2 linked regions of the Homo sapiens genome follow. The protein of the gene in region 1 interacts with the protein of each later gene in a pairwise test. Each region holds a gene or a part of one and is shown in the gene's direction. Other genes may lie near its edges.

The links.
Region 2: the proteins of CEP162 (region 1) and PRMT8 interact in a two-hybrid assay, tested with the Homo sapiens proteins (one large-scale study listed by BioGRID and IntAct).

The regions. Positions count from the first base shown.
Region 1 is NC_000006.12:84,147,593-84,151,242, reverse strand, and holds part of CEP162 (centrosomal protein of 162 kDa), read left to right. Parts: intron 1-1,539; coding exon 1,540-1,681; intron 1,682-3,650. UniProt on the Homo sapiens protein: Required to promote assembly of the transition zone in primary cilia. Acts by specifically recognizing and binding the axonemal microtubule.
Region 2 is NC_000012.12:3,539,553-3,543,202, forward strand, and holds part of PRMT8 (protein arginine N-methyltransferase 8), read left to right. Parts: intron 1-1,053; coding exon 1,054-1,239; intron 1,240-3,650. UniProt on the Homo sapiens protein: S-adenosyl-L-methionine-dependent and membrane-associated arginine methyltransferase that can both catalyze the formation of omega-N monomethylarginine (MMA) and asymmetrical dimethylarginine (aDMA) in proteins such as NIFK, myelin basic protein, histone H4, H2A and H2A/H2B dimer.

The DNA.
Region 1 (3,650 bases):
CTTTAAATACTCATATACCTGGGTCACTCTGCTCTCCGGTGACTCTCAACTTCCTTAAATATCAAGACTAAATTTCTCTGCCTAGCATCTCAAGTCTCATCACTATTCTAATACTACTCTACTTACCTAATCTGTCACATTTCCTCATGCCTTTTCCTCATTCTTGTTATAAGTACTACCTTCACAAAACATTTCGTGGAACTTCCCAGGAAATTGCCTTCTCCTACCCCCAACTCCTACATAACTTACTAATATGTACCAAGAAAGGATTAATCATACACAGCCTTGTAGTTCCTTGAGAACTGGTGTAAGATTATGCTGCTTTTGCATCCCCACAGCAATGTGCTGTAGGAGGAGAATGAGCATGGGAAACACCCAACAAATGCTTATTGACTGGCAGCCATGGCAGTGAGTGAGTCATGTTGTTACCATATGGCAGTCATATTGCTACCAAATGGAAAGCTTGTTTCTTAAGTCCTGAATATTATGACAGTAGCATGAAGCTCTTTAAGAAGAATCACATTTTTTCCAGGAAAGAATTTAAAATTCAGGTTTTCCAATTAATTTTCCTGTACATCATTTAAAATTTGTTAATATTGTCAATCTGTTTCTTAGATAAGTCTGGGCCTGAGAAGTGAAGAATAAACTTTTCTAGTCCAATATTTAGACTTTTTACTATCATTCAGTTATATGTGCTTTAATTTAGGTTTTTATGCTTTTTCTAGGACCCTACTCACACTGTTTCCATGGAGAAATATTCATATGGTGAAATAAGCAATGGATAAATTTGTCTATAGTTGGGAAGCACCATATTAATATATAGCAACAGCAGTTTACTAAAATACATGCTTTAAGTTAAATGCTGTTATTTTCAAAGTCTTTCCAATAAGAGAGAAAATGTTTATCTGTAGGAAATATACCAAATCTTTATTTATAATTTTAACCATTTACTGAACTGCCTCTGAATAAATTTTATCACAGAGACAAATGAATAGTCTTTCACACTTACAGTCCAATTAATTAATTGCATATTACAAGCATAATATGTCCTGAGAATTACCATAAAGATTGTCTCATTCTCACAATATGCAACTAGCCCTGGAGTCTCATGCATGGGTTGAAAATTGGTTAATGCTGCCTACAAGGCATTGGAGATTCTAAAGGGAACAGCTGTGATTTTCCAAAGAAGCATCTGGGCAAGAAATCTGAGTTTATCTTAAAAGATCAAATGTCAAGTGCTTTGCTTTTGGAACCCTAGATTCCCTCAGAAAGTGTAGCCTCAGGTTGGGGTAAAGTAGAGATATATCACTATTTCCTCAAGTTTGCCCTTATAAAATTCAGTAAATAGTAGCTCATGGATTGGTCATAAGAACTCATAGGCAGTAGTAATGTATAAAGCACCTAACACAGTGCAGTTAATATTGGTGCCCATTTTCCCCTTGCTTAATTCCCAGGTTTCTTCTACTGTTTTTGTGCTAACTCTGAATTAGAGGTTGAAGAGCCACTTTTATGTGTGGTTTTCTTTCATTTGCTCTGTAGGGTCAAGGAAGATACTGCAGCACACATTGCATCCCTCAAAGCATCTCATCAGAGAGAAATAGAGAAACTCCTTTGCCAAAATGCAGTAGAAAATTCTTCTTCCAAAGTAGCTGAACTAAATCGTAAAATAGCAACTCAAGAGGTAGATGACAAATCTGTTTTATCTTTTGACTTGAATAAACTCGTTTTGACTTTAATGAGATTAAAGTTAACATTGTTTTATTTGGAAATGTTTTAACTTTTTCAGCTTGGTGATAGAAATGGGAAACTATTATTGGCTTGATTTCTTTTTTAAAGAAGATAATACTATATATTTAATTTTTTTAAAGAAGATAATACTATATATTTAATTTTTCTACTTTAAAACTACACCATATAAATAAATATTTTTACAGTTTGTCCCTATACTTCTCAAATAAGTCTCTAAATTTGTCACAGGTGGTGAGGTATATGTCTAACATGATTAGGACCCTAGTACTTGAACTTGGATGTTGAACCGAGTCCCCAAGTCCCAGCTGACAGTTATCCTTAGGCATTCTTCCTGCCCCATGACCTTTTATTAACAAATAATGATTCAGGTCAATAGACAATCAGGCACTGGAATAAAATAATGAAAAGAGAGATACACAGCTCTTGCTCTGATGGAGCATAGTCTTCTAAGAATTATTATAGGGAATGCTGCCAACTCATCAGCATTTCCTCAAATAAATGTGTCTTCCTTTTTGAAAAATAGGTATATCTACTTAGAATATCTATGAGCATTACCATGTGGCCTGTCTTCTGTACTGTTTGTCACTTATAAAAATAGCATTAAAATAGGACTTTTATCTACAATCTACTTTCAAATGGTATATCCAAGAAAAAGAAAAAGGTGGCAAATCAGCCACCTTTTGGGTTATCAAGTTGAAAAATATATGAATGTTTATTGTGTTCATCTTGTCTGTAGGCTTCAATTTTAAGAAAGAAGGTCAGGGAGAAAAACATCAAGAAAGAATTATCTCACCAAGTGTAATTATTTAATACCATCTTAATTAAAAATAAATTCCTCAATTCGGGAAGTTTGAATATGGACTGGCTATTAGATACTAAGAAATTACTATAAATTTTCTTAGGTATAAAATGTTATGGTTTTGTGAGAAATGCCCTTATTCTAAAGAGATGTATGTTGAAGCATCTGAAGGTTTTGTTTCTTTGAGACAGTCTCCTTCTGTCACCCAGGCTGTCTCAGCTCACTGCAACCTCTGCCTCCCAGGTTCAAGCGATTCTTCTGTCTCAGCCTTCCAAGTAGCTGGGATTACAGGTGCACGCCACCATGCCTGACTAATTTTTATATTTTTGGTAGAGATGGGGTTTCACCATGTTGGCCAGGTTGGTCTCGAACTTCTGACCTCAAGTGATCCACCCACTTTGACCTCCCAAAGTGGCATTTGAAGTATTTAGGGGCAAAATGTAATGAAGTCTGTAACTTAACTTCAGATCGCTGAGAAAAAAAAGGACTATTTGACTACGTTAATGAAAAATACTTAAAGTGCCTTTCGTAAGTAACAATCCATACAGCCTTACAGAGAACCTCTCTGGCCTTATCCTCCATAGGAATAGGGTGTCAGAGGGCAACTATAAGCATTCTATCAAGTGATTTTGTATTAAGGAATAGTCTGGAAGAGGTAGGAAAAGTAGTATCATGATGCCATAGTGCCATAAATGTTATTTTCCCAGCGTTATAAATGTAATATTGTAAAATTGAGTTAAAGAGAAATCAGCATAGTCTGATCATTAAAAATACAGCATTAGAGATAAGATAAATTTTTCCCAATTTCTCTTAGTTTCTTGATGGAAGTATCTGTTCATATATTTCAGTTTACCTAAAGATATGAGACTGACATTTATTTCACAGATATTATGAGGCTTATGTTATATTTAAGCCATAGTTCTTAAATAAAAACTATCATACTTAACCACAGAGTATAAAGATAATATTGTCTACCTTTTTCCAAATGTGTAGACTTTATAGAGCTTTATTTTAAAAGGACTTTTTCTAGTCATGAAAAATGTTCATATTTATTTTCCCCCCCTTTTATTGATATATAATGATTTAGATATTTATAGGATAC
Region 2 (3,650 bases), on another chromosome or scaffold:
TTGTACATCTGGGTCTCCTGCACTCCAGGCAGAGGAGGTCTCCTGGCATAACTGCTTCTGTTGCAGTGTTTGAGCTTCTGGGCTCCAATTGCTGTCTCTGGGCTCCAGAAGCTCTGTGGACCCCCATCTCCTTCTCCCTGCTCCGCCTAGCCTGTGGAGGACCAGGGAGCAGACAGTGATGGGCAGCAGCAGTGGGTGTAGAGCTGGGCTGGGCCTCAGGATTGGGGCACCCAGAAATAGCAATAATTGGTTGTGTGGAGGCCATCAGTGTGGGTATCCACAGTGCTGAATTCAGGGTAGAACTGTGAATCAGAAACTAGGGGGCAAGACAACAGGTAGGAGACACCAGAACCTAAGACATCTGCATTTTGGGGGCCGTATCCTCTTCTAGCTTGATGCTGCCTGTTGAGTGGAGAGAAGCCCATGGGTTCACGTTCCTGAGGATGCAGGTGGGACTTCGTTTCCTCTAACAAACTCTTACTATATGCCTGGCCCTTTTCTAAGCACTTTGAAATACAAACTTGTCTAATCCTCAGGACAACTCTAGGAGGCAGGGACCATTTTATTCCCATTTTAGAGAAAAGGAAACTGAGGCACTGAGAAGTTCATAAGTTTGCCCAAAGTTGTATAGCTGGGAAATGGCAGAGCTGGGATTCAGCTCCGGAATCTACACTCTCAGGCACCATGCTGTGCTATGCATCTTTCCCTTTATTGAATGTTTCCTATTTGCCTTCAAAGGAAGATACTATTTTCCCCATTTCACAGATACAGAAACTGAGGCCTGCATTGCTCAGGTCACCTAGCTAATAAGAGCTGAAGGTGGGTGAAATCTAGGTGTGTGTGGCTCCTCGGTGGACTGCCATCTCTGGACAGATCACAGCCATGAGCCCAACTGCTGGGAGCTGGAAGGGCTCACCTACCTCCCTTTCAGGAAGGGCTGCTGTGGCTGCTTGAGGCCGGGCTCAGGGAGGGGGAAGGAAAGAGGACCGCAAGCCTCCGAGGGCGGGACCCCGTTGTCTCTCCTAACACCCGACCCCCTTCTCTTCCCCTCAGGTGAACAGCCCCCCCTCCCAGCCCCCCCAGCCCGTCGTCCCTGCTAAGCCCGTGCAATGCGTCCATCATGTGTCCACTCAACCCAGCTGCCCAGGACGGGGCAAGATGTCCAAGCTGCTGAACCCAGAGGAGATGACCTCGAGAGATTATTACTTCGACTCCTATGCCCACTTTGGGATCCACGAGGTAAAGTGTCCCGAGTGGGTGGCTAATGGGGCGAGGCTGACTCTGCTGTTCTGTTGTTTTCAGAGGCAGCATAGTGTGTTCAACTCCTTACCATGGTAAAGGGAGTGCTCCCAGTGTTCCTGAGTCCTCTGACCCTTTCTCCAATCCGGGGGGCCCCTCTGGGAGGGGGCCAGGCCAGGCCTGGAGCAGGGGAGCAGGTGAAAGTGTGTGTCTGTATACTCCACAGCCAGAGAGAGCACACAAGGTGCTTACGGTCCATTTGTTTTACATTCCAGCTCCCGTGTCTCTCCCCAGCCATAAACCCAGCTCATCCATTGTGGGCTGGATAGCGCTGGTCTTTGGACCAGGAGCTCAAATGCTGCAGTCAGAGTCCTGAGGCAGCAAGGACCTTTCAGAGGTCATGATGTGCATTCTTTTGACCAATGAGCACCTCCGGGGGAAGAGCTGCAGGAAGCTTTCTTGGGAGCTTGGCCCAGGTCTGACACCCTGATTGATTGTCTGGAAATTCTTATGTCTAAATGCCAGTTTACCCCATAGCAGGGAAGACTAATGTTGACTATGGAACAGAACAGAACCTCCTAACAAGAGGCATCCTGGCCATAGTGGGGGCCTAATGGTGCCCCTACTGTATATCTTTCATTATAATCTCCAGCACTCTCTCCAGCCACCCCAAATAAACAAGTAGGATTTACTGAGTGCTTGCTAAGTGACAGGCACAGTTCTAAGCACATTATACGTATCATTTCATTTAAACTCTATGAAGAAAATATGTCCGTGATCCTCTTACAGCATAAGAAAAAATTGAAAAAGGAACAAAAGTTTGCTTGCTGTGCAAATCGGTTTTCAAAACAAGTCTTGAAGATCTTCCTTCCACGTACTCACTGCTGTAAACTCTTCCTATGTGGAAATGATGACCCTGCCATTGCCGGAAGGGTGTTTAGTAATAATAGCCAGCTCTTTTGTTTGTTTGTTTCGTTTTAGTGCTTACTACGTGCTGGTGTTGTTCCAAGCATTTTATATTATTGGTTCATTTATTCTTCAGGTCAATCCTGCAAGGTTGGTGTTATTGCTTGTCCCCATTCTCCAGATGATTTAGGCCCTTAAGAATCAAATCAACCCTCATTCATCCTTGACGGTTTTTTTGTGTGCGTGTGTGCGTGTGTGAAAGGCCACAAGCTAGTAGATGGCACAGCTAGCAATCAAACCTTCACCTTTTGTTCCTAACCATCATGCCATACAGCCCTTAAAACAAGTTTCCTTTCTTTCCATCTGGAAACTGTAAAAATTAAATTGCCATATTTGTTCCTGCTGGTTCTTCTGCAGCCCTACATGGAGGTAGAGGGTGGAAGGAGGCCCCCCAGTTACTTCTAGACTCAGGGGCTCAGCCTCATTTAATCCAGGGAGGCTCAAGGTTTGGGTCCCTGAGAACTGTTCACCATGTAAAACCATTAAGCCTGGACCTGCAGGGGAGGAGGACTGGGGCCTGTGTTCGGTCCAGAAGGTCCTGGCCCAGGAGGGCCTGGACAGCTGAGCCTGCAGCTTCTGGGAGATAAAATGCCATCTCAGGGCAGATGGATGAACTCTTACCCCTTCCTTGACCCTGCTCTCCACTGGGCTAGGGATTCCTGGAGCCCCATCCTTGGCCTGTGAGAGGCTCTTGGGGGCAAAAGAGACTCTGCGAAGGCCCCTTCCTCAAGACCTTGTCCCTAATTAAAAGTCATGTTCTCCATGTGACAAGTTCTAACAGGCCTGTGGCTCTGGGTACCCATTTCAGGACAGATTCTTGGGAAAAGAGAGCAGTTCCAGGGACCCCAAAATGTCTCCTCTTGGGCCTGCCCAGAACTCCCCCATTAGAAACCAAACAACCATGAGGTGCACCTCAAGCTGGGTCTGCAGTCTCCCCTCCCCACTCGGAGCCTCCGTGATCGGCTTCTTGGACACCTCCCTCTGAGTTGCTAGGTTCCTGCTGAGCCACACCTTTGGCGTTTAGAGTGTGCTCCACTAGGCTATTACCGATCTCTATAATTCCTTTGGGACTTGGTGTCCCCAGCCTGTTACCTACAGCTTGGCACATTGTCTGGAGAGCAAAGGCTTGTTGACATGGCTGCTAATCCAGTCATTCAGGCGATGCCTGGTCAGCACCATGACCCAGCACCCAGGGGAGAGGACATCAAGTTTCACCAAATAAATACTAGACCAGTTTCCCTCAATTGTGTGTACTTATGGAAAAGTCAAGCTTGTGCATACGTATATATAAACATAGTGCGGGCTGAGCAGGGGACTTAGAGTATAAGACCTGTGAGTCATAGATCACATTCCTGTCCTGGGAGAGTGCTTAGCAGCCTTCCCATTGGGAAATACTTCTGGACATCTAGCTTAAATCCCTCCTGCTGCTGCTATAGACCATCTCA